Homo sapiens: one gene and its partners. The protein of the gene in region 4 purifies or fractionates together with the protein of the main gene of each other region. This does not show direct contact. Each region holds a gene or a part of one and is shown on either strand. Other genes may lie near its edges.

Evidence for each region.
Region 1: the proteins of PYGL (region 4) and NEK10 purify together in Homo sapiens (co-immunoprecipitation; one large-scale study listed by IntAct). This does not show direct contact.
Region 2: the proteins of PYGL (region 4) and TRAP1 purify together in Homo sapiens (affinity purification with mass spectrometry, with the first as the bait; one large-scale study listed by BioGRID). This does not show direct contact.
Region 3: the proteins of PYGL (region 4) and HMCES fractionate together in Homo sapiens (co-fractionation; one large-scale study listed by BioGRID). This does not show direct contact.
Region 5: the proteins of PYGL (region 4) and PFKP fractionate together in Homo sapiens (co-fractionation; one large-scale study listed by BioGRID). This does not show direct contact.
Region 6: the proteins of PYGL (region 4) and OGFOD1 fractionate together in Homo sapiens (co-fractionation; one large-scale study listed by BioGRID). This does not show direct contact.
Region 7: the proteins of PYGL (region 4) and EIF5B purify together in Homo sapiens (affinity purification with mass spectrometry, with the first as the bait; one large-scale study listed by BioGRID). This does not show direct contact.

Annotation. Positions count from the first base shown.
Region 1 is NC_000003.12:27,110,223-27,114,857, forward strand, and holds part of NEK10 (serine/threonine-protein kinase Nek10), read right to left. Parts: intron 4,077-4,635; coding exon of another isoform or gene 4,058-4,076; exon of another isoform or gene 4,004-4,057; intron 1,099-4,003; coding exon 1,050-1,098; 3' UTR 1-1,049. UniProt on the Homo sapiens protein: Plays a role in the cellular response to UV irradiation. Mediates G2/M cell cycle arrest, MEK autoactivation and ERK1/2-signaling pathway activation in response to UV irradiation.
Region 2 is NC_000016.10:3,661,626-3,666,260, forward strand, and holds part of TRAP1 (heat shock protein 75 kDa, mitochondrial isoform 1 precursor), read right to left. Parts: intron 4,494-4,635; coding exon 4,346-4,493; intron 3,837-4,345; exon of another isoform or gene 2,835-3,836; coding exon 2,649-2,834; exon of another isoform or gene 1,938-2,648; coding exon 1,799-1,937; exon of another isoform or gene 1,343-1,798; coding exon 1,257-1,342; exon of another isoform or gene 1,021-1,256; intron 508-1,020; coding exon 362-507; intron 1-361.
Region 3 is NC_000003.12:129,291,894-129,296,528, reverse strand, and holds part of HMCES (abasic site processing protein HMCES), read right to left. Parts: intron 1-4,635.
Region 4 is NC_000014.9:50,923,295-50,927,929, reverse strand, and holds part of PYGL (glycogen phosphorylase, liver form), read left to right. Parts: intron 1-3,829; coding exon 3,830-3,961; intron 3,962-4,635. UniProt on the Homo sapiens protein: Allosteric enzyme that catalyzes the rate-limiting step in glycogen catabolism, the phosphorolytic cleavage of glycogen to produce glucose-1-phosphate, and plays a central role in maintaining cellular and organismal glucose homeostasis.
Region 5 is NC_000010.11:3,108,422-3,113,056, reverse strand, and holds part of PFKP (ATP-dependent 6-phosphofructokinase, platelet type), read right to left. Parts: intron 4,357-4,635; coding exon 4,264-4,356; intron 3,703-4,263; coding exon 3,577-3,702; intron 836-3,576; coding exon 771-835; intron 1-770. UniProt on the Homo sapiens protein: Catalyzes the phosphorylation of D-fructose 6-phosphate to fructose 1,6-bisphosphate by ATP, the first committing step of glycolysis.
Region 6 is NC_000016.10:56,472,054-56,475,553, reverse strand, and holds part of OGFOD1 (prolyl 3-hydroxylase OGFOD1), read right to left. Parts: intron 727-3,500; coding exon 604-726; intron 48-603; coding exon 1-47.
Region 7 is NC_000002.12:99,395,827-99,399,680, reverse strand, and holds part of EIF5B (eukaryotic translation initiation factor 5B), read right to left. Parts: intron 2,922-3,854; coding exon 2,783-2,921; intron 934-2,782; coding exon 772-933; intron 375-771; coding exon 267-374; 3' UTR 1-266. UniProt on the Homo sapiens protein: Plays a role in translation initiation.

The DNA of each region.
Region 1 (4,635 bases), on a different chromosome or scaffold from region 4:
ATTGAAGAGAAGGAGTTTAAGCCCAGTGAGAATCTAGCAGATTTTCATCATAATTCTCCCGGCATAAAGGATGATACACAGTTTGGCATTCTGATTTCACTTCCACTGAGCTGCCTCAATGAGTAAAAAAGGGATTTAACTTATTTTCATTTCAAAATCCTAAACAATTCATAAACAATTTAGGTAATTGTAATAAGGAGGGATTTAGGATGAGGAATATTGCATCTTTTTCATAGATTCTATAAACTCTTCAAAGTGCTCTAAAAATACTATAAGTTTGATTAGCAGCAAAGCATTAGTCTAATCAAAACCTCTCTCCTTCCGCCCTCATATATAAACATATACACACACTGTACAGCAATATATTCTATTAGTCTAAGTTAAATCTGACAGTTTGACAGTTACCCCCAGAGGCTGTGCAAGGTTACAAATACTGTCTACACTGTATCACAGTTCAAGACCACTAGCACCCAAGTGGTTAAGCGAGAACCAACCCATCCATTAAAAAAAAAAAAATTTAATCACGTATTTTGAATTTCTTTAAATGTAAAAATGGAGGATACAGTGAATCACCCAATATATTATTCTGAGTCCTGTAACTGTCTTTATCTAAAATATTTTTTACATATGGAAGGCTAGATGTCTTTAAATATACTTTTAGCAATTCTGAGTATCAAATGTGCCTTTGAAAAATATGACAAGTTTTTTTTAATGTTAAGGAAAATTCTGTAAGAGAGTTTTTTTGTTGTTGTTTTTGGGTTTTCCCCCCACCCTCCAAAAGATGAATTTTGCAGCATTTTCTCCCAGCAGCACACTGGTAGCTCTGACATCCTGTATATAATGTGTTCTGGCAATGAAGCCCTCAAGTACCGCAGCTGTCATATACTCCAGCACAGGACCCCCAGAAAGAAGTCCTGCAGGCCCCATGGCATCTTGGTCTTTTCCACACCCTCTAGCAGCACCCAATCCTTGGGCATCTTGCAATAGCGGCTGAAGTCCAGAACTTGAACTTCACTGAGAAAATCAAGTCCACTCAAAATGCAGCATTTTCATCTTTTGGTTGGGTGATTCTTGGTCCCCCATGGATAGGAATGATACCTATAAGATTCAGAAGTGGAAAGAATTCTCTATAGTTACAAATATTTTAGTTCATACATTCAATTTCAAAAACTGGGGCTCAGGCATATAAGTAAATAAATCACAGTAAATAAAAAGACGATTATTTTTGTTAGGATGGGGACATTTTTAAAAAGCTGCCTTTGGCTGAAGTCTGGTGCTAACAAGGCCTTTCTCAAATTATGAACTCAATAGGAACTGATAACACTTTGTAGTAGAAAAACAAATATTCATTCAAAATAGCTTGTATACTTGAATACCTGTGTAGGTTAAAATAACTAATTTACACGCTTATCAGTCAATTGGGGAAATAAAACAATTCAAGTTGATTCAATGTAGATTTGTTATCTTGTATACTGTTATTTCTCAACACATTTTATTATTAAAAATAAAATATTAATGTAATACATAAGTATATTCATAAAGATTATATGCTCATTATCTGTTTATTCATGACTCAAATGATTTTATCCTCACAAACAACAATGATAAAATTAAGGCATATTAAGTTGCATCCTTCTGGTAAGCAAGCTAAATGCTTATGTATATAAAACGTAATTTATCATACAACCATGCAAATGATCAAAAATAGAGCCTGCTTTGGGAAGAGCTATGAGGCTGGCCAAGCCTTTTTGACCTTCTTTAACTTTCTTTACACAGCTTTCTTCCTTCCAACTCAGTCCTAGCTCCCTTTTTCCCAGAAGCCCAGAAATGAGAAATACCCAACCTTGGTCAGAGGTCCTTGCTGCTCTTTCTGTTCCTGTTACCATTTTCTTTTCCTAATGCAGCATTTTATGCCTGAGACATTCTTCCTAACTGTCCAAGCAGTCTCCTCATGATTTAAACAGTTCCAGAAATCTTCCTCAAAGATAGCTAACAGATAGATAATGGCTTTATCCTGAGACTTTCAGTCTGAAAATGGCACCTCTCTATTCTCTTCCTTAACTAAATATAAACCCTATAATTTAAACCAAAAATGTACCTTATCTTGAATTAATCCTTTAGTGACTGGCTGGCTAGATGATGTGTGTACTATTCAAACTGATAGTCTTAAATTGTAAACTTGAATAACACCGAAATTATATATGTAACTTTCTCAGCACGGTGCTTAATTCATTTAAGAACAAATTTTGCAATGACGATGATGACAATGATGACCATGTCAATGAGAACAACAGAGATCTGGGTAGACCCTGGTGAAGGAGTGAAAACGGTGTTCCTCATTTCCAACCACATAGCTAAAACAGCTTTCCTCAATTGTATTCCATGTAAAGAGTGAGGAAAACACTGAGGTCAACAAACAAGGTCAACAGATTTCTTTCTTATAGTACATCTCAGAGTCTTTAATATAGTAATAGGTGTCAACATTCTCCAAATATAAAAAATTGTACATTCTGAGTTTCCCAAATATATGTGGCCATGAAACTTTATTTTTCAGAGACTATCTATTGACATCTTTGATAATATTGCCCATTCTATGAAACCTATTGGGGAAAAATGCAGTCTACTAATTCTAAATACTGATTCTAAATACCTCTACATATGCTGTGACATTTAGCACCCTCCATCCTTTGTGGAAAAAAGCATGACAGTACCAGCTAATCTGATTTGTACTTGGAGTTATGTGTTATTCACAGTTTGTGGATTAGTAGGTGCTTCTAATTGAAGCCTGACTTATTTCTTGGAAATTATTTTGGAATACTAGTAAACAAAGAGTGGCTTTAGGCACAAACAAGGGTTATTTTTACAAACAAATTCTGGAGAGTTTTTCTCCCAAGATATGTTCTATCATTGCTATTAGAAGCCAAAAGGGGGTCGGGTGTGGTGGATCATGCCTGTAATCCCAGCACTTTGGGAGGCCAAGGCAGGTGGATCACCTGAGGCCAGGTCAAGATCAGCCTGGCCAACATGAAGAAACCCCGTTTCTACTAAAAATACAAAAATTAGCCAGGTGTGGTGGTGGGCGCCTATAATCCCAGCAACTCGGGAGGCTGAGGCAGGAGAATCGCTTGAACCCAGGAGGTGGAGTTTGTAGTGAGCCAAGATCGCACCATTGCACTTCAGCCTGGCCTGAGCAACATAACGAGATTCCATCTCAAAAAAAAAAAAAAAAAAAAAAAGAAGCCAAAAAGGGAATACCATGGATATATGGATTTTTAAATGTGATTCATTTTAATTTGGAGCACTTTAAGAAAATTTAATGCAATACCCAACTTATATTGCTTAAACTTGACTGTTTCATCATACCTTCATAATAGATTCACAATTACAAATATAACTGAATAATTTTTTGCCTTTGTTATAAGGCATCTTATTATCTGTTTATCATAATAAGAAAATTTGCAATGTCTTTTAATAAAGCCATATGTCTTTGGAACTAGATCGGTTTAAAACCTAATGAAAGTAGAATTGAAAAAGAATAATGATAAATTCCAAAATAAGACAAATATTTTTTAATAAAGGGAAAATAAAAGTTCTTGTAAGAGCTTCCTTAAGTTCCTTGCACACTTAGTTTTTCTTGATATTTAAATGATTTTCTGCAAAAAATATGAAGACATTCCTTGCCCATGATCCCAAGTCTCTGAGAAAATGCAGATAAAATGACAAGAGTCATCTTTTCCCCAGTACAAGCCAAGGGCACTTGAAATAATGAGGCTCACAGTTAAAAACAGAAACATTCATACTATCCATGATAGTATGCTTATGTATGTAAAATGTAATTTATCATACAACCATGCAAATGATCAAAAATAGAGCCTGCTTTGGGAAGAGCTACGAGGCTGGCCAAGCCTTTATGACCTTCTTTAACTTTCTTTACACAGCTTTCTTCCTTCCAACTCAGTCCTAGCTCCCTTTTTCCCGGAAGCCCAGAAATGAGAAATATCCAAACTTGGTCAGAGGTCCTTGCTGCTCTTTCTGTTCCTGTTACCATTTTCTTTTCCTAATGCATATACTCAGCCCTTGAATAGAAAATGAAAATTCAAAAATCTCTCCAGGGATGGTGGGAGGAGAGTAGTTGTGGAGATGGTAATTTCTATTGACGGTATATCTTTAGAAAATGAGAATTACTCATTGTTCCTCTGCAGTTACAAATCACAACAGATCTAAATTTATAAAGGTAGTATTTTGAAACTGTTATCAAGTCAAAAGAGCAAGTAGTTGAATAATTTTACTTGTGACTCATAAGAAAAACTCCTTGAAATGGGAGAAGTAGAAGAAAAAGGAGAAGAAACACTGGAGACTGAACTAACCTTAGAAAAGAATCTAATTTCTATATAATGACCTTAACAGGATGTTCTTGAGCCCTCTTTCTCTTCCCGTTGTTACTAGTCATCTTTGGTGAAGACTTCTGGAATAATTTAAATAGTGGTCACAAAATAGCTTCAATAATTGAAAAGGAAGGCAGTCCCTCCAGGCATAAAAGACCACTTTGAGAGAATATACTCCAAAGGACTATGCCTCCTAAAACAACTGTGGCCCAGATAGAGTGTGTGTGTGGATACTTGCAACCAATTTGAT
Region 2 (4,635 bases), on a different chromosome or scaffold from region 4:
TCATGCCAAGTGAGCAACGTGAGACTTCAGCAAACACCAAGATCCACGTACAAAGCTCAAAACAGGCAAAACTGAGCATGTCCAGGACACGCACAGGTGGCAAAGCCATAAAGCAAAACGAGGACATGGTCACAGGCTGGGATGTGGCTAACCTCCCAGGTGACACCTGGGGATGGTAAGGGGCTGGCCAGGTTCCATTTCACATGGGTGCAGCCTAAACTGCATACAGCTCCTTATAGTTACCCACATGTCCACAGGCCTCACGCACTTTTCTTCTGTGTCACATTCCACAACAAAAGAACACCACACACAGGATTCTGGGGAATCCCACAGGCTGGAAGAGCCAGGAGCGTGGCCTCACCTGGGGTTGATCTCCAGCGTGGGCTGCAGGAGCTGTGCGCGCTCCTCCTGGGTCTTGGCCAGCTGCTGCATGCGCAGGAAGTGGCGGGCAGCCCCCATCTCCAGCACGGTGACCATGGCAGGGTGGGTGTCCAGTCGGAGGGTCACCTGTGAGCAAAGCCCGGGGTTGAGGGTGATAGAGGTTCCCAATGTGAGAGGGCTGGCAGGATCTTACCAGGGGTGAAGGTCACCCAGACCACGAGGTAGCAGGCGGGGTCTCAAGGACTCCCCTGGACCAGCGCTGCTCCCTCCCCATTACCCACTAACTTGTGGGCCCTGAGCTGATGCCCCACGCAAAGATACTGTGCCCGAGGGGCTCCACCACCCTGGTGCCCCGCTGCTGCCTCCAGGAGCTGCCCGAATCCATCGTCCTCTGCTCCATGCCAGCCCACCCTGCATGAGGCCCCTTCCTCCAAGTGACCATGCATGGGACGCTCATTTCTCACTCTGAGCTAGACAGGTTGGTGGGGGGAGTCTTAGCTCTCTGAAGCCCACCCAAAACCCCCGACTAAGCACCCAAGTGAGCATGTGAGCTCCTGAGGGCTGGGGTAGCATGTCCCTTGTTTGGAACCCCCACGTCCTCAGCCATTGCAGCTCCCACTCAGGATGCTGGTTTTTCAGTTCTCAGTTCACACCTGCTCTGGAGCAGGGCTGGGAGAAAGACACGGCCTTCCTGCCTCAGCGGCACTCCCGAGCAACACGTGCCGAGCAGGGACCCACAGGGTCTCCACCTGACACCAAGGGCTTCTGCTGCTGCTGGAAGGACACCCAACGGGCCAGGTACTGGGAGCCACCAGCTGGCCAGCCTGTTAGGGACACTGCGGCCAAGTGGTGGTCCATCCCCGGGAAAGCCTCACCTTCACGTTGGTGACACGCGACCCCAGCACATTTCTCATCCAGGCCATGAGCTCCTCCGTCTCCTTCTCTGATAGGCACTCGGCGGCTGCGGAAGAGCAGGCGACAGGGAGCTCAGGCCTGCATCCCAACTCCCCGGCTTCCATGGGGGCCACGCAGCATGCTTCCAGCTCCCACCTCCTCTCCCACCAGGATGGAGACACAAGCTAGCAAGATGCTTTTCATCTAAAAGTAAAACCTCAAAGGATGCTTCAGGTTGCCTGAGGCCCATACAACTTGGTTAGGGCTTTAAAAAAATACACAGCCTCTCAAGAAGCTGGGCCAGCTCCAGAAGCCACCGTGGCAGGAGCACTGGACAGACCCCTGATATCTAAACCAGGAGGCACCTTCCTCCAGTCACCAGGGTGCTCCCACAAGGCTCTTCTCGGGGGTGGCTGAGCCCAGGTCAACTGACGAAAACCCAAAGGAAGCCCTCGCTGCGGGGCAGGAGAGGCGTGCGGGGAGTGGAAACCAGCCCCACGCCTAGAGAGCAGGGGATGCCGACCTGGGGACCTGTCCTCAAACTTCTCCTCCTTGTAGTGATCCACGACTATGTCCGTCTCCACAGAGATCAGCTTCTTCTTGTCAAACTCACGAAGGTGCAGCAGGGTGAGCTCATCAAACTGCTCAAAGCAGAAGAGAACCTGCAGGTGGCCAAGAGCAGCTCCATCAGACCCCGGGGGCCTCCAGCCACCACAGAAGAAAGGATGAGGGCGGCAGGAGGGCTGGGGGAGCCAAGCGGGCCACACTGGGGAACACCGGGGCAGTTGGGGTTCCTAGGCCTGCATGACAGTTACTACGACACCTGGGTCTAAGGAAGGCTCTGACTGCCTTCAAGGCAGAAGCACTCCACGCATAAAGAAATCCACATGTGGCTGAGTGCAGTGGCTCACGCCTGTAATCCCAGCACTTTGGGAGGCCAAAGCAGGCAGATCATGAGGTCAGGAGTTCGAGACCAACATGGTGAAATGCCGTCTCTATTAAAAATACAAAAATTTGCTGGGTGTGGTGGTGTGCACCTGTAGTCCCAGCTACTCAGGAGGCTGAGGCAGGAGAATGACCTGAACCCAGGAGGCGGAAGTTGCAGTGAGCCGAGATCGCACCACTGCACTCTAGCCTGGGCGAGAGAGCAAGACTCCATCTCAAAAAAACAAAAAACAAACAAAAAAAACCACATGTGACCTCCAAGTGGGAAACAGCCGTCACAGTCGGTCCGGCCTCTGTGCCCGTGACCCTGACCCACTGTGCAGCCCTGCCCGGAGTCTTGGGCAGGTTCACCCAGCACAGAGCTGAGAAGGTCAAGACCCTCCCCAGGTTGCAGCCCCCGGAGCCCGCCCCACCCACCGCTCACCCACCTCTGTGTCTTTCTTCTTCATGGCCTCATAGTAGGGTGAGTGCTCTGCCAGGTGACGGTTGGGGGCGCACAGGTAGTAGATGTTGCGGGTGCCGGCCCGCATGCGGCTGGCGTATTCTGAGAGGCTGGTTAGCTGCCCGGAGGGCAGCGCCGAGGACTCGTAGCGCAGCAGCTTTGCTATGTCCTCCTAGAAGGGACGGGGCAGGTCACCACTTATTCCAGGCCCATGGGCTCAATGTTGCCCAACTAACTGGGCGCAAACCCTCCGATGCCCATGGCCTCCTGGCACTCCAGGCTGGCCCTGACCCGAGGGACGGTAGTGGACTCGGGGGTTGTCCGAGAGCAGGCCTTGCTCTGCCCATCAGGCCCCTTTTGGGAGCTCTGGGGGCTTAGGAAGCACCTCCTGCCCCAGGTGGCCCAGGGGCTCTCCAGGGAGCTACGCGCACCACGCCCTGGGAGGGGACCCCACCCAACAGCAGAGCCCGGCCTGGACCCAGCGTCTTCCCTCTGCCCTCAGTGACAGAGTCAGTCTCTGGTGGGCACACGGACACGGGTGAAGTCCACGGTTCCCGGCCCTCCTCACAGCTGGCTATGGCAGAGACTGGCTTTGCCCAGTGGGTTTCAGTGGGATTTGGAGAAGGGCCCTTAGGGGAGGGGTTTGCCCTCCTCCCCATCAGCTGAACGCAGCTGTGACCTCTAGAGCTCATGGGAGCTGCAGCTGGAAGGACGCAGGGGGAAAACAGAAAGAGGGAAAAGCAAGGAGCTGGACACCCAACCAGCAGGGCCCAGGCCACCCCTGCACACATGGTGGGTCTGCATTGATAAGACATGTCACACGTGCACACCTACAAAGACCTAGAAATGTCTCTGACTCTTACCTGTGTGCTGTTAACTCAAATGAAGATAAAGGAGAATGAAGAGGCCTGTGTCAGAAGCTGCCGAAGTCGGCAAACAACCAGAACACGGCCTCCTTGGGACCCCACACACGTGGTCACCCTCCTCCTGCTGCTGGGGAGAAGGGACACCAGCACGGGATGGGCTCCTGGGATGAAATGTTCTGGGGTTACAGTGGAGGCAGCCACACCACACTGTGAATGCACTAAATGCCACTGAATTTTACGTGTTAAAAGGTGAATTCTGTGAATCTGATGCTATGTAAGTTGTATCTCAATAAAAAATGGACAAAAAATGTTTATGGAACAAATGTTTCGTTTTTCAGCCATCCACTATTGGATTAACTGAACGACTGGCCCCTGTAGCATAGTATTTGGAGACTGATATCCAGTACATGATGAATAGTCCCTCAACAGACACTGAGACCACCCACTTCCCCACCCACGGGATCGGAGTCCTTGGCTTGTCCCACCTGTCTGTGGCTCCCCAGCCCCCAACATCCTCTGAGGGGAGACAGTGTGTGCACGCCCTCTTCCTGCCACTCCCTGGGCTGCACCTTCACACAGCAGTGAGGCTGAGCCCTTCAGAGCACAGCACAGCACTGGTGGGAGGGTAAGGATGTGCCTGGAAGGTGCCAGAGGCCCAGAAGCCTGGCCTTCCATTTCCTGACCCTGGTGGCAGCAGCAGCAGCAGCCAGGGTACCCAGCTGCACCGTCGCCACATCAGGGGACACCTCCACCAGCTTCCTCAGCAGCCCCAGGGACAAGGTGGCCCAGAAAAAGGCCTGGAACACAGCTCCTATACCTTGACCTCCTGCTCGGTGGCGGTCACAATGCCCTCCCGCATGAACAGGCCGTAATCTTCAAAAAACTTTGCATACTTCTCAGCATCTTTTTTACTCTGGTCAATGAAGAATTTGATCAGCCTCTGCTGTAAAACGTCCCGGAGTTTCCTACAGAAAAGAAATGCATTTAATACATACAAGCAGCCTCTATGAAATACAAATGGCCAGAGGGTACGAAAAAATGTTCAGCCCCGCTAAGAATCAAAGAAGTGAAAACAACAAGGTACCGTTATTGGCCAAACTGAAAAAG
Region 3 (4,635 bases), on a different chromosome or scaffold from region 4:
GATTATATTTCCCAGATGCTGAAATTATCAGAGAACTTGAAGTAAGTAAAATTAATGTCAAAGACTCTTGTGGAAAATGTGGACAACATATATGAACAGATAAGGAACGTTAGCAGAGAGACAGAAACTATAAGAAAGACTCAGTGAACTTAAAGATAGGTCAATAATGGCCAGGCGCAGAGGCTCATGCCTGTAATCCCAATACTCTGGGAGGCCAAGGCAGGCAGATCACTTGAGGTCAGGCGTTCAAGACCCACCTGGCCAACCTTATCAAACCCCGTCTCTACTAAAAATACAAAAAAAATTAGCTGGGCATGGTGGTGCATGCCTGTAATCCCAGCTATTTGGGAGGCTGAGGCAGAATTGTTTGAACCTGGGAAGTAGGGGTTGCAGTGAGCCAAGATTGCACCACTGTACTCCAGCTTGGGTGACAGAGCGAGACTTCATCTCAAAAAAAGAAAAAAAACGGTCAGTGAAAAGTATCTAAACTGAAACAGAGAAGAAAAAAAGAAAGAAAAATGGAGAGAATATCCAAGAACGATGGTACAATTAAATCATCTAACACATGTGTCATTAGAATCCCAGAAAGAGAAAATGGGGCAGAAGAAATATTTGAAGAGGAAAAAGCCAAGAAATTTCCATAAATTATGAAAGATATCAAACTGCAGATCCAAGCAGCAAAGAGAATAGGCTAAAACACATACACACAATGTATTCAAACAGCTGCCCTAAGAGAAAATCTTAAAAGCAGGGGTGGAGGGAGGTGGAGGGGAAGGTGGTGAGAGCAGCACACATTTATGCATTACATACAAAAGAAAAAAGACAGTTATACACTAGACTTCTCAAAAAAACTATGAGAGCCAGAGACAATGAAGTGTATTTTTTTAAAGTACTGAAAGAAAACAAAACACCACTGACCCAGAATCTTATATACGGTGAAAAATACCAGACAGTGGTTGCCAGGGGTTAAAGACAGGGAGGTATGGAAAGTGACTACTAATGGGTGTGGTTTTATTTGGGGTTGATAACAGCATTCTGGAATTAGTGATGATGGCTGCACAACATTTTGTGGGGTTTTTTTTGTTTTTTTTTTTGATAGAGTCTCACTGTGTCACCTAGGCTGGAGTGTAGTGGTGTGATCTCGGCTCACTGCAACTTCGACCTCCTAAGCTCAAGTGATCTTCCCACGTCAGACTCCCAAGTAGCTGGGACCACAGGCACGAGCCACCATGCATGGTTAATTTTAGAGCCACTGTGCCTGGCCAAGGTTTTGAATATACTAAAAACCACTGTACATTTTAAAAGGGTGAATTTTATTATATGTGAATTATATATCAATAAAAAGCATGAATTTTTTTTTTTTTTTTTTTGAGATGGAGTCTCACTCTGTCGCCCAGGCTGGAGTGCAGTGGCGCCATCTCGGTTCACTGCAAGCTCTGCCTCCTGGGTTCATGCCATTCTCCTGCCTCAGCCTCCCAAGTAGCTGGGACTACAGGTGCCCGCCACCACGCCCGGCTAATTTTTTGTGTGTTTTTAGTAGAGATGGGGTTTCACCGTGTTAGCCAAGATGGTCTCGATTTCCTGACCTGGTGATCCGCCCACCTCGGCCTCCCGAAGTGCTGGGATTACAGGCATGAGCCACTGTGCCCGGCCCTGATGATTTTTTAAAATAAAGAAATAGATACTTTTTCAGACAAAAAAAAAATCAGAATTTATTACCAGCAGACCCACACTACAAGAAAAATTAAAGTCCTTCAGGCAGAAGGGCTGTAATACCAGAGAGAAAACTGGATCTATACAAATAAGTGAAGATCCATGGAAATGGCTAAAATGAAGGTACGTGTACAAAGACTTTTCTTATTTTTTACCACTCTAAAACATAATTGACCATCTACAGTAAAATAGCAATGTATTGTAAGTTTATAGTATATGTAAAAATAAAATGCATAACAGTAGCCCAAAAGACAGGAGGAACTGGGAGAATACTGTTGTAAGGTATTTTCAATAGTAATGTAGTGTATAAAGACAGAATGTTATTAACTTAAAATGTATGCTGTAAGCTGTAGGGCAACTACTAAAAACATTTATTTATTTATTATTTTTTTTGAGACGGAGTCTCACTCTGTTGCCCAGGCTGGAGCACAGTGGCGCAATCTTGGCTCACTGCAAGCTCCGCCTCCCGGGTTCATACCATTCTCCTGCCTCAGCCTCCCAAGTAGCTGGGACTACAGGCACCCACCACTGCACCAGGCTAATTTTTTTTTTGTATTTTTAGTAGAGACAGGGTTTCTCTACTGTTAGCCACGATGGTCTTGATCTCCTGACCTCATGATCCGCCCGCCTTAGCCTCCCAAAGTGCTGGGATTAGAGTTGTAAGCCACTGCGCCCGGCCTAAAGACATTTTTTGAGAGGCAAAAATAATAAGCCAATAATAGAGATGAAATGCAATTATAAAAGATTATTCCCAAAACAGAAAGATCAGGAGAAAAGGAACAAAGAGTTGATGGAACAAATAGAAAACTAGCAAAACAATGGATTTTAACCCAATCACATCAATAATTACATTAAATTAAATGTTCTAAACACAAATTAAAAGAATGATTGTCAGACTGAATCAAAAAGGAAAATCCAACTATCTGTAGTGTAAAAATTAAGTTCAAGTCCAGGCGCAGTAGCTCATGCCTGTAATCCCAGCACTTAGGGGGTGCTGAGGCAGGCGGATCACCTGAGGTCAGGAGTTAGAGACCAGCCTGGCTAACATGGTGAAACCCTGTCTCTACTAAAAATACAAAAATTAGCCAGACATGGTGGCACGCACCTGTAATCCCGGCTATTCAGGCGGCCGAGGCAGAATTGCTTGAACCCAGGAGGTGGAGGTTGCAGTGAGCTAAGACCACACCATTGCACTCCATCCTGGGCAACAAGAGTGAAACTCTGTCTCAAAAAAAAAAAAAAAAAAAAAAAAAAGAATTAATGTATATTAAGCTAATACACATTAAGTTCCTAGAAAGAGTAACTGACTAGTAGTAAGTGCTTAATATTTGCTATTATAATTGATAGATGTTTTATAAATTAATCTTGTCTTGTACCAAATCATTTGTGTGTTACTAGACTGGCTAGACTGGGAATTTTCTTTTTTAATTTATGTTTTATTTCAATAGGTTTCTGGGGAACAGGTGGTGTCTGGTTACATGAATAAATTCTTTAGTGGTGATTTCTGAGATTTTGGTGCACCCATCACTGATAGGGAATTATCTGAGGGTGAGGCAAACTCTCTTGACTACTGAAACTGCCCCAAAGAGTTAAAAAACAAACAAACAAACAAAAACACCAATGACTAAATTCTTGGGCTTACAGGATAGCACATAAGAAAATAACTTGCTGAAACAGTGAAACTCCCTCCGCTTGTAAGATAACAAAACTGGCTGAATTGGTTGGAACCAATAACTGACTAGAGTATATGCAAAACAAGCTTGCTTATATCACAGCCTGAATTTCCACCACATTTCACACTAACTCCCCCTGAATTTGCACATGAGACCTATATGGAGGCAGGAAGAGATAACTGCACATACCTGAAGACTTTCCAGGCCTCCCCTTTCCTTCCACCAATCACCTACTAATCCCAGAATCCACTCCCTAAACATTTTTTTAATAAAAGTACTCCTTAAAGCCAGCTAGGGAGACAGAGTTGAGCTGGACTCCTGTCTTCTTGTTAGTCGACTTGAAATAAAAAACTTTTCTCGGCCAGGCGCAGTGGCTCACGCCTGTAATCCCAGCACTTTGGGAGGCCGAGGCGGGTGGATCACAAGGTCAGGAGATTGAGACCATTCTGGCTAACACCGCGTCTCTACTAAAAATACAAAAAATTAGCCGGGCCTGGTGGCACACGCCTGTAGTCCCAGCTACTTGGGAGGCTGAGGCAGGAGAATCGCTTGAACCCGAGAGGCAGAGGCTGCAGTGAGCCGAGATCACGCCACTGCACTCCAGCCTGGGCAACAGAGAGAGACTCTGTCTCAAAAAAAAAAAAAGAAGAAAAAAAAAAACTTTTCTCTGTTACCCAGGCTGGAGTGCAGTGGTGCAATCTCGGCTCACTGCACCCTCCACTCCCCACCCCAGGCTCAAGCTATCATTCCACCTCAGCCTGCCAAGTAGCTGGGACCAGCTACTCAGTATCATGGTATTGGCTTCTAGCACATTGGGTAGCAAGTCCCTTTTACTCGGTAACACTATTTCCAGTCCCCAAAATGAGATGACAGGTGAACAAACAATTCCCAATTTTAACAAGCAAACTGCTAAGAACTCAGGTGCTTTAGCAGTGTCAGACTAAATAATCTAATTAAAAATAAAACATGATGTTGGCATGTCAGATTTGTTTTCAATCTCCTGATAATGTTTTAACATGAACAGTTCAAATTATGTCTTACAGTGAAAGGGTTTTTGTTTCATTTTTGAGATGGGGTCTCACTCTGTCACTCAGGCTGGAGTACAGTAGCACGACCTCAGCTCACTGCAACCTCCACCTCCTGGGCTCAAGTCATCTTCCCACCTCAGCCTCCCAAGTAGCTGGGACCACGCCCAGCTAATTTTTTGTATTTTTGGTAGAGATGGGTTTTCGCCATGTTGCCCAGATTG
Region 4 (4,635 bases):
CTGGCTACATGGAAACCTAAATTTACAGATCAATTTGTCAATTCATTGGAAGAAAGCAAGGTAGAGAGAAGGTTTATCACCATCTTGCAGCTTCTGTAGATTTAGTGGAGGCAGCAAGGGATAGTTCTCTCCTCCTCAGATCTACTCAGGTCAACTTGTTATGAAACGCTTGTTTCTCAATCTACCTTAAAAACAAGCCTTATAAAATTGATAGAATTATTCACCAATTCTTTATTGAATCAGCGGGAGATTCACAATAAAGAACAGCAAGCAAATAAACTCTCCTACGAGTTGTTAGCCCCATGAAGCTAAAACCAATCATTTACTTGGCAGGAAAAAAATTCAACCAACATTTGATGGCATTAAGAATCTCATGTAAGAGTGTACCCTCAAAAGAGCAAATGTGGCTTATCGTGGTGGCTCACGCCTGTAATCCCAGCACTTTAGGAGGCCGAGGCAGGCAGATCACTTGAGGTCAGGAGTTCAAGATCAGCCTGGTCAACATGGTGAAACCCCGTCTCTACTAAAAATACAAAAATTAGTTGTGTGTGGTGGCGGGCACCTGTAATCCCAGGTACTTGGGAGGCTGAGGCAGGAGAATCACTTGAATCTGGGAGGCATATGTTGCAGTGAGCCAAGATTGTGCCACTGGACTCCAGCCTGGGCGACAGAGCAAAACTGTGTCTCAAAGAAAATGAAAATAAAAATAAAAAGAGTAAATGCAACCTCTGACTTCCACAGGAGTCAGGGACTGAGCCCACAGGAGGAAGTTCAGTGCCCATCCTCTCTTATCTGAGCATTTCAGGCTTCTTGGGGGCAGGACAGTATATCATCCTGCTGCATTTCTCAGCAAAAAAATATGTCATCAGTTCTCCCATGGTCATGAGTTTTCAGAGGAAAACTGTTTCTGCCTCATCGTCTTCCTATTTCATACAATACCTTCAGATGGGTTTTACAACAGCCCTGCATGCTGAAATGAGGCAAACAGGCCTATGGTTCTTTCCTGTTACAGGAAGCAGTGTTCACATTGCTCAGTATTTTAAAACCCAAAATTGGCCCTTGCCTAAGTGCAGCATAAAGTATTTTGTAAGTCAAGATGTTTTGATCCTTTGTTGATGTCATCATTTTATTTATTATAGCATTTCTAGTTATGAACCCAAGTTAATGGACTTTTTCTTTTTTTTTTTTTTTTTTTTTTTTTTTTGAGACAGAGTCTCACTCTGTCTCCCAGGCTGGAGTGCAGTGGCACAATCTCTGCTCTCTGCAACCTCTGCCTCCCAGGTTCAAGTGATTCTTTTGCCTCAGCCTCCTGAGTAGCTGGGATTACAGGTGCCCGCCACCATGCCCGGCTAATTTTCATATTTTTAGTAGAGACGGGGTTTCACCATGTTGGCCAGGCTGGTCTCAAACTCCTGACCTCATGATCAGCCCACCTCGGCCTCCCAAAGTGCTGGGATTACAGGCGTTGCCACCACGCCTGGCCAAGTTAATGGACTCTTTAACAAGCTTCTTGACAACTGGCAAACTTCAACTGTTTCTTTATTAAAATTTTATTTTATTTTATTTTACTTTATTTTTTGAGATGGAGTCTCACTCTGTCACCCAGGGTGGAGTACAGTGGCATGATCACAGCTCACTGTAGCCCTGACCTCCCGGGCTCAAGCAATCCTCCCACCTCAGCTTCCTGAGTAGCTGGGACTACAGGTGCACACCACCACACTCGGCTAATTTTTAAATTTTTTTTAGAGATAGGTTCTCACTATGTTGCCCAGGCTGCTCTCAAACTCCTGGGATCAAGTGACCTTCCTGCCTCAAAAAAATTTTATCTTTGTTCTCTTATGACTGGGATAGCGGAAGTTTAGTTTTTAATTCTGAATTACAGATTACAGTTATTGACTTTGCATTGCCTTGTAGCTCTTGGCTGCTCTTTGTGGGGTTCAGGGACCAGTAGAATCAGGAGCCCCTGGGAGCTTATTAGGAATGCAGAATTTCAGGCCCCTCCCCAGACCTACTGAGAATCTGCATTTTAAGAAGATGTGACTTTCTGACGAGCTCAGATCTCTCTCCAGCCTTCCCTAGGGTTCATCTTGCATCTGATACCTCCTCCTTCCTCCAGTGGCTCTCTAACTCCTAGCTCTTCCAACTAAAGATGTTGTTGCTATGAGTCCCATTTCCATTCATCATTACACTGGTAGTTAATATTAGTGGGAAGCTTACTGGCTTTCTTGATAAACAACACTATCAAAATTTGAATAAGTGAACTTGTATTCATTTCTCTGGCTGTTGACAATAATGGTTAGTCTAAATTCTCAAAAGATAGTGGCTGTGTTTATTTTTGTCTCTTCACACTGTTCCTGAGACAGGCATTACACTCATGTTTAGGTGATCATGAGATGTCCAACATTGTGTTGTAATTCTTAAGCAGTATCTTCTAAAACTAAAGCTGAGTTTTCTAAGAGGTGAATATGAGGTATCAAATAGGTAAAATAACCATATTGGAGATTATCTCATTGACAAAGCTGCTTTGTTTACCCCCTTCTGGCCAGAACACAATTCCATTTTTTAATGTATAGTCATGCACCACATAATGACATTTCAGTCAACAATACAACACATATGCAATAGTGGTCCCATAAGATGGTAATGGAGCTGCCCCCTGTGGGTGTACCATTTCTTATGTTTTATACTGAATTTTTACTGTACTATTTCTATGTTTAGATATACAAACACCATCGTGTTACCATTACCTATAGTATTCAGCACAGTAACGTGCTGTACAGGTTTGTAGTCTAGGAGCAGGAGGCCATACCATATAGCTCAGGTGTGTAGTAGGCAGCACCATCTGGGTTTGTGTAAGTGCACTCTGTGATGTTTGCACAATGACAACGTTGCTTAAGAACACATTTTTCAGAATGTATCCCTGTCGTTAAGCAATCCACAACTGTATGTGTCATATTTTAAAGGTTTCAATAATTTAAAAATACATCCCCCTCCAATGTGTTTGGTGGTGGTGGTGTTCTTATTTTGATGTGTTTGTTTGTTTGTTGCAAATGAAAATGTATTTGATGTCCAGGATATCCTAAATAGAAACCATAGTTTAAAATCGTATATAAGAAATATTTTGTTATAAATTGACATAAATACCTAGGAAAATATTGAAATTGTCAATAAAATAAGTTCATTACCTCTTGGAATATGTTATTTTCAAAATAAACTATAATCTATAGTTCATTATCAAATCAAAATTACATAAGGATTGAGATAAGCAAAGACTACATAATGCAATAATGTTCTGTACCTATACCAATAAGCTTGATTAAAAGAGTGTTCTGTAAGTAGCATTTTCTAACTGATTCTGTATATTCTAGCCACAAGAATCTTGACTGAACCCTTTGTGTAGGACTCAACAGGCCCAGGTATCCAACGATAAACATCCCTGTAAGGCGTCTGTCTTTAGCTGAAGCTGGACAATTGGATTCACAGACGTTAAGACAGAGGCTCTGGAACACAGAGACCTAAGGGCAGATCTTATCTCTATCGTTTACTGTTTGACCTTGAGATCTTATCTCTACCGTTTACTATTTGACCTTGAGCAGTTACAATTCCTCATCTTTAAAAGAGGATTAAATGCAGTAATACATATAAAATATTTAGAGCTGTATTAGCGAGTATTATTGTTGATGTAGGCTGTAAAAAAGTTACAAAACAGTACTCAGTATTCATAAGTTGTTTCAGTTAAAGATGTTTTAAATTTAATATAATATAATTGAAGTGCTAGGTTCATATTTCCTGACAAATAAATTCTAAGCAATACTGTATCCTTTTGCAGGTAGAAGAAGCAGATGATTGGCTCAGATATGGAAACCCTTGGGAGAAGTCCCGCCCAGAATTCATGCTGCCTGTGCACTTCTATGGAAAAGTAGAACACACCAACACCGGGACCAAGTGGATTGACACTCAAGTATTCAGAGTGCTCGTATAGCCAGCGTTTTGTATAGTATTTAGTACAGTAGATAATACATTGACTATGTAGCATATAGTGGTGATATTGAGTATAGGGCATGTCGTGTTTTGAATAATAGAATATATTTTTGTAAATAAATCTGTTACTTCTCTTAGCGCAGCCCAGTCATTTTGGAGACAAAGGAGCTGAGGCCAAGAGAGGAGTGACTTTTATAAGGGTCATTTTGCAACCAGCTTTGTCAGAAAATTGTCAGTTCTTTTTTTTTTTTTTTTTTTTTTGCCAGAAAATTGTCAGTTCTATAGTAACCAGCATGCTTACCTCTTTGGTTTTATATTAAGGTGTTGATAGCAAAATTGAATAATTTGAAATGTCATTCCTGGCTGGGTGCAGTGGCTCACAACTGTAATCCCAGCACTTTGGGAAGCCGAAGCGGGCAGATCACCTGAGGTCAGGAGTTCAAGACCAGCCTGGCCAACATGGTGAATCCCTATCTGTACTAAAAATACGAAAATTAGCCAGGAGTGGTGGCCCATGCCTATAGTCCCAGCTACATGGGAGGCTGAGGCAGGAGAATCGCTTGAACCTAGGAGGTGGAGGTTGCAGTGAGCTGAGATCATGTCGCTGCACTCCAGCCTGGGTAACAGAGTGAGACTCTGTCTCAAAAAAAATAA
Region 5 (4,635 bases), on a different chromosome or scaffold from region 4:
TGGAGAAAAGGTGGCTTATCTGCCAGCACTCAATGTGTCTGCCCGACTATCTGGGCAGAAGGAGGAGGCCCCAGGGTTCCATGTGCATGGCAGAGCCCTTAGCCGCGACCCGCGGTGCTGTCCGTGTCTGGTGGAAATGGACTAAGAGAAAAGGGCACGCTTCTACACTTCATAACTTTCTCTTGCAAGACATGCGTGCGGTGGCTCAAGCCTGTAATCCCAGCACTTTGGGAGGCTGAGGCGGGTGAATCATTTGAGGTCAGGAATTTGAGACCAGCCTGGCCAACATGTTGAAACCCCGTCTGTACTAAAAATACAAAAATTAGCTGGATGTGGTGACATGCACTGGTACGAGCTGGTAGTCGCAGCTACTTGGGAGGCTGAGACATGAGAATTGCTTGAACATGGGAGGCAGAGATTGCAGGGAGCTGAGATGGCACCACTGCACTTTAGCCTAGGCAACAGAAGGAGACTCCTTTTTTTGTTTTGGTTTGTTGTTAAAGGGCCACAAGTCACCTTGTGCCTTAATCTCATTAGCTCCTAAACAACCATCACCTTACCAAAAAGGACCAATGGCAAATTTAGAAAATGATTTCTCTCTAACCAGTCACCAGGGCCTGCTACTGCAAGAGCGGTGCTGTGAGTACTGCCTGACTTTCTGATTTTTCACAGTGACATGGAATAAGCACAACCCCTAAGCACGTTTGCAGTGGCTGGGCCTGAGGGGTGTGTGTTCCTGACAGGGCAGAGCTTTCTCCAAAGCACCTCACCTCCCTCGGAGTCGAACCGCATCTTGAAATCTCCTCTCGTCCATCGCCTTCTGCACATCCTGAGTCTTTTAAAACAATGATGAAAAGAAGAAAGAATGTGTCAGGACCTGGTGCATCATGGATGGGGTAGGTAGAGACTGGCTCGGTCCTTCCCACCAGCCCCCTCCAGTCTGACCCGGGCAGCCAGCAGCCCCAGGGTTAATGGTCTAGACGACCGGCCGCCAAGTGTGTCCTAATGCTGGTTGGCAGCCAGCCCCACACGGCCCGGCTGTGAGGTCAGAGCCCTGGGACTGCTTAGCTCAGGAGGCTTCTGAGGAAAAAGAGAAGGTGTCACCTGCTGTTTGTGGACACAACACTGTGAAGATTTAACTCCAAGAGAACAAAGCCAGAGGAAATGAAATCTCTCAGGCATGGTTCTAAGGAATTCTCAATTTGATTATGGTGGGGAAAAACAAAACAGAACACACCAGCTCACTGGGGGATGTGGGATGGGAGCGAGGTCACAGCGGGCGGGGGAGCAGAGGGGCCCGGATGGAGGCCCTGGGACACGGGGCTGGGACTGATGCACGCCAGGCAGCCCTGGGCAACGTCAGGATCTTGGTCAAGTTCTTTCTCGCTCTGAACTTCAATTTCCTCATCTGTAAGATGAGAAAAATACTCCTACTTCCAGCTATCTCTAAGGTTATTCAAGCATGTCAGACCCTCAGGAAGACGCCTGACAAACAGCAGGTGCACAGTAGTGGTCCCTCAGCTTTAAAAACAAAGCCACACAAGGGTGGTTTCAAGGTCAGGGCAAGTGACACCTACCACGGTCGTCTCTAGACAAGCAGAGACATGAGACACAGGCTCAAAATACACGTACCGCATGTCGTTCAGTGCTCTGAGCCTTTTAAGCCTACTGCCTCTCACATGCACACAGGCACACACTAACGTGCAGACACACACTACCTCACACTCCAACATACACACATATGCACATAAGCATACCTGCACACACAAACATGCAGACACACGCTACCTCACACTCATGCCAACATGCACACATCTGCATAGAAACATACCTGCACACACACACAAACATGCAGGCACATACTACCTCTCACAAACATACACACACATCCATATAAACACATGCACACACAGACATGCACACACTATCTCAAACATGCTCACACATGCATATAAGCATACATGCACACACATGCAGATGCATTACCTCACACACATATATACACATGCATATAAACATACATGCACACACTAACATGCAGAAACATACTACCTCACACTCAAATGTACACATGCATATACACACATGCACACACACTAACATGCACACACACTACCTCACAAAAACATGCACACACGTACAAACATGCATGCACACAAACATGCACACACATACATGCAGACATACTACCACAAACATGCATACTCATGCATATAAACATACACATACATGCAGACCCAAACTACCTCACAAACATGCACACACATGCATAAATATATGCATAAACCTGCATGTATATGCATATACAGAGATACACATGCACACACATATACATACATACACACAGAGACACAAGCCTGCGCACACACTCACACACATACACACAAATACTATTTTCTCCCTTGGGCTTTTGGAAATTATGTTTACAAGGTGACTTTCAACAAGTCCCTGACTTGATTGCTTCACGACTTCTTTGTGTGTGTTAAGAGGCAACAAAACAGGAGTCACGAATCATGAATGAACTCTGAAAAATAAAACAACAGCTGGGCGTGGTGGCTCATGCCTGTAATCCCAGCACTTTGGGAGGCCGAGGTGGATGGATCACAAGGTCAGGAGATCCAGACCATCCTGGCTAACACGGTGAAACCCCACCTCTACTAAAAATACAAAAAAAAAAAAAAAAAAAAAAAATTAGCCAGGCGTGGTGGTGGGCACCTGTAGTCCCAGCTACTCGGAAGGCTGAGGCAGGAGAATGGCGTGAACCCAGGAGGCGGAGCTTGCAGTGAGCCAAGATCACGCCACTGCACTCTAGCCTGGGCAACAGTGAGACTCCGTCTCTAAATAAATAAATTAATTAATTAAATAACTTCAAATGCAGCTAACTCCACAGCCACCTCCACTACTGAACCAATGCCTGAAAAGCTGGAACTGCTTTTCCCTTTGTTCATTTGCAGGCAGACAGTTCCCTGGCCCAAGAAGGGTGGGTGTATCTTCGGGTGACCAGAGCTTTCCCTGTGTCCCATCACAGACCTGAATGTCCTTGGGGATAGGAGGACAGGAAATGGCTGAAACTGGAGAAGTTTGGGAAGGTCCCACCTTCCCCTACAAAATACCACCCTGTAGATCTCTCTCACGCCCGCCTCCCTGCCTCCCTGCCCCCTCTGCCCCATGGGTCTCTCTCACGCCCGCCTCCCTGCAGTCTGTCCACGGATCTCTCTCTCTCGGCTGCCTCCCTGCACTCTGTCCTTCTGCAGCACCTGGTGCACTGGGGCCACCTGGATCCTCGACTGTTGAGGATCCCGATGCTCTAGACCCCCACTCAGGGGAGGTTACGACTATGTGCCACACAGATGGATGGTAACTTAGAAAACCAAAGAGCGAAGACGGCGCAGGCTCTGCAGGTGTGGGAGAGAACATAAGCCTTCTCCCTCCCCACGGGCAGCTCACCTCCTTCTCAGAAAGGCCGTGTAATGCATCGTGCACCGACGAGACACCCAAGGTGCCCAGGCTGGCCTGACAAGCAGCTTCTGTCCCAGCCGTCTCCGCCCTGCCCTTGGCCATGGGCTGCCCACTCACCATCTGCACGCACTCCATCAGCGGCAGGCGCACGGCGTGGTTCCCGTTCAGTGACACGACGCAAGCTGGGGTGTCCGGGGTGGCCTCTAGCAAGGCGATGACTGCCTCCACTCCCATGCGGCTGGCCTGGAAACCAGGTCCATGTGGGTCAGGGGCAGCCTCCCGTCCTGCCCTGTCCCTGTCACCTCCTATCTTTCCATGACGTCCAATGACCTCAGTCAGGTGCTCACAGCCCCTCCCGCTTCCAGCCCAACTCTTTAGAGCAAAGCGATTTCCACTCCTTTAGAACTGGCAAGACGGGAACAGAGAGGAGGTCAGGGCACATGGAGAGCAGGAGTGTTAAGAACTGAGGGTTTGTACTTGGGATTCCTGCTGCCCTGAGTCAGTTTCCAGAAACTCACTAGAAACACAGCCTTTCTGCCCTGGGATTGTGCCCTCTGGGGTCCACGTCGTGCCAACACCAAGCACTGCCTTCCCACATTAGGGAGCTCTCCCCGCATCTGAATGGCTGCAGGCCTAGAGACTGGTCTACACCAAAGGTCTCAAGGATCGTTAAGATGAGGGCCGGGCCGCGGGCATCTCTCGGGGAGCACCTTGCCAGCCTCTGTGGCCGGCTGGTGCCTGTGCCTCTCCAGAAACGCTTCCTCCTAGAGACCTTGTGAAGATGCCCAACCCTTCCCAACTCACCAAGATCCTGTCGAATGCCGAAGGGGTCCCTCCTCTCTGCACGTGCCCGAGGATGGTCACACGTGTGTCATAGCCCAGCTGCGTGACGACAAGCTGCAAGGAAACATCTCGTTAGGATGCGGAACTGTGATGCGGACACAGCAGCCCAGATCTGGAAGGAGGTACTGGGCACTGGAAAAGGTTTTTCGCTCTTTCTTCAGATCTAAATGGGAAAAGTTATTTCTAAATTTTGTTTCCTAGCAGAACGTTTAGTGTATATAACAGGCAGCTGAAAATTGGTTTTAAAAATAATACTGTTGTTACCAGACAAGATCTTGGCTCGCACCTAGAAAATGAATACAAGTAATATGTTCGTTGCTTTAAAAAAGAAAA
Region 6 (3,500 bases), on a different chromosome or scaffold from region 4:
ACCTTTGGCAATGTAAGAAGTAAAACCGCCATATTCTGGCTCCCAGCCTTACAAGAGAAAAACAAACAGCATTCAGAAAGCTCCTATTGAAAGAGTCGCACCATCTACTTAAATCACTGATCCCATGCTGCTTAACAGTGGGGGATCTGGGAGTTCAGCAGTAACTGGTTCTATGACTTATGAGCTTGAACTTATCATCTAGTTTATCATGGATTGCCTTCCCCTAAATGCCTAATTTCCTGAGACAGCTGAACTGAAATGCAGTCTTATTTCAATAAACTTTGAATATGAAAATTAAGAGAGAATTAAATGCTAAATATTCCCAGAAGGGCAATTACATAAAATCTATAGATCTGGGAGCACACTTAGGGGAAAATTATGGTGTGGTCCATCTCCCCATTTCCTAGTCACAGATATAAATCCTATTTTGAGCTGGGAGACTGGAATTCATGACCCGTAAAATCCCTTTGACTTTGAGATCCCATGATGTGAGATTCTGAACTAGGCAAATTACTTATGAATTGGTTCAGCTGGAAAGGGTCCCTCAGAAGAGACTGCCCCTCCTACGGGGAATAATCCACCGCTTGCTTTCCTCCCTCTTACCTTCACAGCCACAGTACAGAATTAAGTCTAGGGCAAATTCAGCCTTGCTATGGTCATGAATTAAAGTGTAGTGACCGGTCTTCCAATGCCTCAGTTCCCCTTGGCACATGGGAACACTTGATTCTAAGGAAAAAAAAAAAGATGAGAAACTTTAAAAAATAACCTTGATAGAACTGTTGGATTGCAAGGGAATCATAATTAGGAATGATACAGCAACACAGGGAAACCATTCCCACAAACCTTTGATTGAAGTGCTATTCTACCAATCCAGCCTTATAAAAGATTGTTAGGAATTACCAGCTCTATTTTGGGGTAAAAAAGTTGAATTTTGGGCCGGGCATGGTGGCTCATGCCTGTAATCCCAACACTTTGGGAGGCTGAGGTGGGCAGATCACCTGAGGTCGGGAGTTCAAGACCAGCCTGACCAACATGGAGAAACCCCATCTCTACTACAAATACAAAATTAGCCAGGCGTGGTAGTGCATGCCTGTAATCCAGCTACCCGGGAGGCTTAAGGCAGGAGAGTTGCTTGAGCCCGGGTGGCAGAGGTTGTGGTAAGCCGAGATTGTGCCATTACACTCCAGCCTGGGCAACAAGAGTGAAACTCCATCTCAAAAAAAAAAAAAAAAAAAAGTTGAATTTTGATTTCTCTCTATAATAATAAATTTCAGATGGAAAAGAAGTCTAGTTGCAAAAAAATAAAAAATACGACATGAATATTATTTTATCTAACCTTAAGAGATTTCTCAGCATGTTATTACCTAAAGTAGAAACGAGGAAAGGCAAAGATAGACCTGATTACTAAAATATTTTATAAAATTTAAACCATGCTGAACAAAATTAAAAAATGAACTATTACAATCTGTTAAACAGAAGGTTAGTACTCCTCTGAGGCAGGCAGATCACCTGAGGTCAGGAGTTCAAGACCAGCCTGGCCAATATGGCAAAACCCCGTTTCTACTAAAAATACGAAAATATTAGCTGAGCATGGTGGCGTGTGCCTGTAATCCCAGCTACTTAGGAGGCTGAGGCATGAGAATCGCTTGAACCTGGGAGGCAGAGGTTGCAGTGAGCTGAGATCACACCACTGTACTCCAGCCTGGGTGACAGAGCGAGAGTCCACCTCAAAAAAAAAAAGAAGGTTAATACTCCTATATGTAACTTTTTAAAATTAACTAATAAAATGACAAAAAGCCCAAAGGAAAAATACACTGAGGTAATGACAGGCAACTCATGAAAAAAAAAAATCAAGTAACCAATAGGGAAAAATATACAACCACGCACCATTAGTCAATGATAGGCGAATGCCATTTCCACCTAAAGAATAAGCAAGTTGGAAAAGAAAATATAACAGTTTGCTAGGAAGAATGAAAACATCATCATGTACAATGCTGGTGGGAGTGCAGACTGATACAAGTTTTGGGGAGGCAATTTGGCAACTGCCTTAAAATTTTGAGCAGTCTTTGATGTATCACCTGTACTTCTGAGAAGCATTCTGAAGACACAATGGATGTGTCGTTTATTATGACAGTGAAGAACTGGAAAAAATCTAAATGCTCAACACAGGACTGGTTAAGGTCATCTGATCCAATAGATTGCAAGCATTAAAAAGTATACTAGAGAACGGTGTTTTTCAAAACTTAATTGTGGCATACATTCTTGAAATAAAAGCTTCTAGAAATGCAATGTTGGAAAGCAGATACATGTAAAACTGCTTTGGTGGCCAGGCGTGGTGGCTCACTCCTGTAATCCCAGCACTTTGGGAGGCCAGGGTGGGCGGATCATGAGGTCAAGAGATGGAGACCATCCTGGCTAACACGGTGAAACCCCGTCTCTACTAAAAATACAAAACGTTAGCCGGGCGTGGTGGCATGCGCCTGTAGTCCCAGCTACTCGGGAGGCTGAGGCAGGAGAATCGCTTGAACCCGGAAGACGGAGGTAGCAGTGAGCCGAGATCATGCCACTGCACTTCAGCCTGGCAACAGAGCGAGACTCTGTCTCCAAACCAAACCAAACCAAACCAAAACAAAAAAAGCAAAACTGCTTTGGTGGAAGGTTTCCTAAGTGAGGAGGGTGTGCAAACCTGTTCTATTGTTATAAAGGATGTAAAAGGATCAGAAAGAGGTTTATGAAATATTAAGTGGAAAAAATACAGAACAATATATATGGTATAATCTCATTAAAAATAGATGTGTAAAAATATACCCCCCATATGTGTATACATGTATATGTCTACATAGCAAAAAAACAGTGGAAGGATATATTCCAAATGCTAATATGGCCACTTGTAGATTATTATTTTCCTTTTTCTTGTTTTCTAAACATTCTGAAATTGACGTATTTTTATTTTTTAAAATCATCTTCAAGTTATCAGGTCTGTAATGTTATCTCACTAGATGTGCCCTAGCTATGCCAATGTTTAGCACTGCTATCATATGCCCAGCAATTTGATAGCTTTTGCCAAGCTTTATAGCTTTTCTTCAAGATGGTAAACTTCGTAAACAGTGACTTTTCTCTTTCACTTTTGTATTCCCTACTCTGCTTTCACCCAAGGCCCCCTGTATACAGTAGGTGCTCAACAATGGAATAAAGCATCTTTTGGCTGCCCATATAGATTTTATCCTAAGTTGCAGGTTCCCGTAAAAATGAAACCAAAAAAGGAATAGAACTGGACAAGTTTTGGCCAGGTGTGATTGGTCACGCTTGTAATCACTGCACTTTGGGAGGACAAGGTAGGAGGATTACTTGAGCCTAGGGGTTTGAGACCAGCCTGGGCAACATGGCAAGATCCCATCTTTACAAAAAAAAAAAAATCAAGAAAATTAGTTGGGTGTGGTGGCATATGCCTGTGATCCCAGCTACTTGGGATACTGAGGCAGAAGGATCGCTCGAGCCTA
Region 7 (3,854 bases), on a different chromosome or scaffold from region 4:
AACAGCAGCCAAGTAGAGAAGGGTTGGGGAAGGGAGAGGTGAGTGAACAGGCACATTGGAACTGTGGGGACATGTAACTGACCACTGTCAAACCAGTGTAAGTTTCTTGGTTTCTCATGGAAAACATTTTATACACCTATTTTTCTTCCTTCCATACTTAAGTCCATCAGTGTCCAAATACGTCTGTTCCATTTTTTGTCTGATTTTTGTTGGGATATTACAACACAGTATTGCATTTACTCCAGTTCCTGCTCCATGTGAAAAAATTAGATGATTTCAAATACTTTCTTCAGCTCCACAATAAGCTGCCAGTCACTCTTCTGCATTTCATCTCTGAACCAGTCTTTGAGTGCATCAATGGACTGCCGGCTGATCTGCAATGCCCGAGGCACAAACAGGGTAAACAGAACATAACAAACGTGCCAAAGAAAGCTGTGGCCCCAGATGCCCGCTCTCACTGTACTAAAAAGCTTAAGCAGAAATAAAAAACAGGGCTTGCCTGCCTAAGGGAGTAGAATTCCAAAATCACATCTGGTTTGCATGTCAGGCACGAGGGGACCTAAAAGTCCTAGCTTTCTCTGTTGGTGCTGCTTTCCTGATAGAGCAACTTCCTCAACAGACAAGGCCCAGCTAGAGGTCAAGCCCTAATGGGGGATCCAGTCCCATCAGATTCTACAATCAAACTGAAGCCCAAGGAGCTACAGGTACAGGTGACCCAAGAAGAGTGATTCCCTGTTGCTTAAAGTGTGCCACTTTTGCTGAAATACTTACCTTACTAACAAGAATATCTGTAGCTTCAAAATGTCTTCCAAACATTTTGGGTGACTCACCAGGGATAGGTTCTATTTTTACACAAACTTCTTGTCCTTTTTTTGCAACATCCACTTGTTTATGGTTTATTTCAATACTTGTTACTATTCCGATGTCAACAAACTATAAAATAAGAACAAATTAAAATGCATGCAGAAGAATTCATGCCAATCACAGGCGCCATGGCTGGATAGCTGAAGTAAGAACTAGAGCAAAAGCCTGTTTTAAAAGTCATGGCAGTGCGATCCTTTCATCACTCACGGTGTAACATTTTGGTAAACTAGGCTGGCACCACCAACACCCTATTCCCTTCATGATGGTTGTAAGAATGACAGGAGATAATGTGCTTTGCAAAACATTCCAAGTGCCCTGTTGACCCAATGTCATTTCCTATTTTTGCTCTACCATTTCACGTGACAGGTGCCGTAATAGGAGGGATCAGCAGGCACAAAGGGTCTGAGTCAGGAATGAGCTTGAAGTGGCTGATGGGAATGAAGTCAGAGTGAGGACCAATCCTGAAATTTTAAGAATGATGGCCTGTGAGCAGATGAGTGATGTGATCTCAGAGTTTGGGGCAAAAAACCCTGACTCCTTTGTGGAGAAAAAGATTCAGGAGAGTAAGAGTGAAAACAGGGAGAGCTCTGGTTGGTTTAGGAGGCCAAAGCCACATAGAAAGTAACACAAATAAATGTCCAGGCTTAGTCCACTGAAATGGTAGAAAAGCAATGACAACTTCTAAGTGCCATTGCCCATTACAAGAACCAGGTTTGGGCCAGGGAAAGTACTAGATGAGGCTGGAACATCTCAACCAGAAAGGAAGATGATGCTCAGACTGCTGTGTGTCAAGGATACAGGAGCCAGTTGAGCTCCTACTGACCACAATAGAAAATCTGAGTATCAAAAGAATAAAGGTAATGGATTATATTAAAAAAAAAAAAACCCACTGAGTCTATGACTCAATAAAAAGGTCAGTGGGAAGAGGTTCTTTGTAAGAAATGGGGGGACAGGTATATCCACAATTTTGCAACCATCTACGTAATAGTTGACTTAGGCAACGCTTGCCAGTGGGTACTAAAGGCACTGGGATAAAGGCTGTTGAGAAACAGGATATCCATTAGGAACTCCAGGTACCAGACAGATTACAGAGTAATTATAAAGGGGCAAGTTTCTAATGGAGATGGTTGGCGTCTAGCACTTTCCCCAGGAAATCAGAGCATCAGCAGCAGTCAGACAGGCTGGGTCATGCAAGAGGCAGGCACACAGGGAAACTGCATGAGTGTCTTTCCAATAATTCTAACCTGTGTCTAGTTGGGAGGGAGAGAAACAGATAAATCCAAATGGAGGAGGGATTTGCAAAACAACAGGGACACTTCAAAAAGAATGGAGGACTGTTCTTGACTGAGGCTCAGCCACAAAACAAGCCCCAGTGCAATGCAGCTTGCAGGGCACTGGGCCAGATTGGTGGGGAGAGTTACCAAAACATCTTTGGAATAACTGGTGAAATAATGTTGAGGGCTGCAAATTATAGGATATTGTTGAAATATTATTAATTTTTCTTAGGTATGCTGACAGAAAGGGAAGGTAAACATGAGTGTTCATTATACTAGTTTTTAAACTTTTCCACAGGCTTGAAACCTTTCAAAATAAAATAAAAGGCAATAATGTAAAGTGCCTTGGAGCCCCAATTAACTGAAGCACTGAGATCAGCACTGAGTCAACACTGACTATGGAGCACTGATATTTACCAATACTGAAGCACAACAGAAGGTGACAGGCTCTGCTTGTTTTAAAGTTACCACATTTTCTTCCTACTGAGGTAAAAACACTGAAACATTTGTTAAGAAGGTGGAGACCACACTAAATACACAGCACAGTACTGTGAACTACAGGCACAAAGCTGTGTTGGTACGACTCTTGGACACTCATTTAGTGCTTTAAGAAATGACCCACAGAATGTACAACTAGAACTTACATTTTTGCTTGGGACACACATGGGTGTCCCCTGTTTCACCTGACCTGCTTCCACCGTCACCCCCATCACTATCGGATCTCGAGAATTAAAAATGTACTGAGGGAGGATTTTTATCTTGCAGGGAAATACTGCTATGTGCCTGAAAGGAAAAAAGAAAAGAATTTTAAGCTTACAGAATCACTTAAACATAAAAAGAAAAACTGCAGCTGAACATCAGGCTTCTCCCATTAGAGGAAAGCAGCTTTCCCCAGCGGCCACAGGAGAGGGGCAGGCAGGGTGCTGCAGCCCAGGGCCACCCCATGCCCAGAGCGCTTCTTCCTTGTTCTTAACCTCCTCCTCCCCATTCTGTTGCTTCCCAAGTCTTTGCTTTCTTCTCTTTTAAAGCCCTACCTCCAAAAGAAGCTGCATCACAGGAGCATTCTGTTCCTAGTCTAAAACACTGAGCTTGGCTGCTGAAGATGTCAGCCACAGTCTGGGGCTTAGAACCTAGGCAGTACCTGGTGACAGGCAGGTCTTCGTTAGGCACATATGTAGGCTACTGGGGGATCACATAGGCATCAGACCGTATTATCACCCTCCTTTTCTCCACCACGTTCCCAAACCATTGATCCAAAAGGCCACTACATAACTACCCTGCTTATTGAGCACACGCTTAAAATGCTTTAAAAGTTTCCAGCAGTCTTGTTAAGTAGAATTCTTCTCACTTCAGGTTTCATGATCTAAAGTGAGCATATACCAGTCTAAATCCTAATATTTACTAGTAAGCTCCACTTAAAAATGTATCCCAAACTACGCCATCACTCCTATCATCACTGTGGTCTGAATCACCTAGACCTCTTGCTTGGACTGTGGGAGCCTCCTGACAGGCTCTTGCCACTGACTTCCTAACAACCCAAGGTCCACATAACAACCCAATTAACCAGTCTGATTGTGAACACACAGCCTTGGCAATGGCTTCTTGCAAAACTCAGAGAAGCTCAATCCCTCCCATGGCCTGTAAGATCCTTGACGATACAGGTCCTGCCACCCTCTCTGACCTCATTTATCACTGTCCCTTCTGGTCACTCTGCCT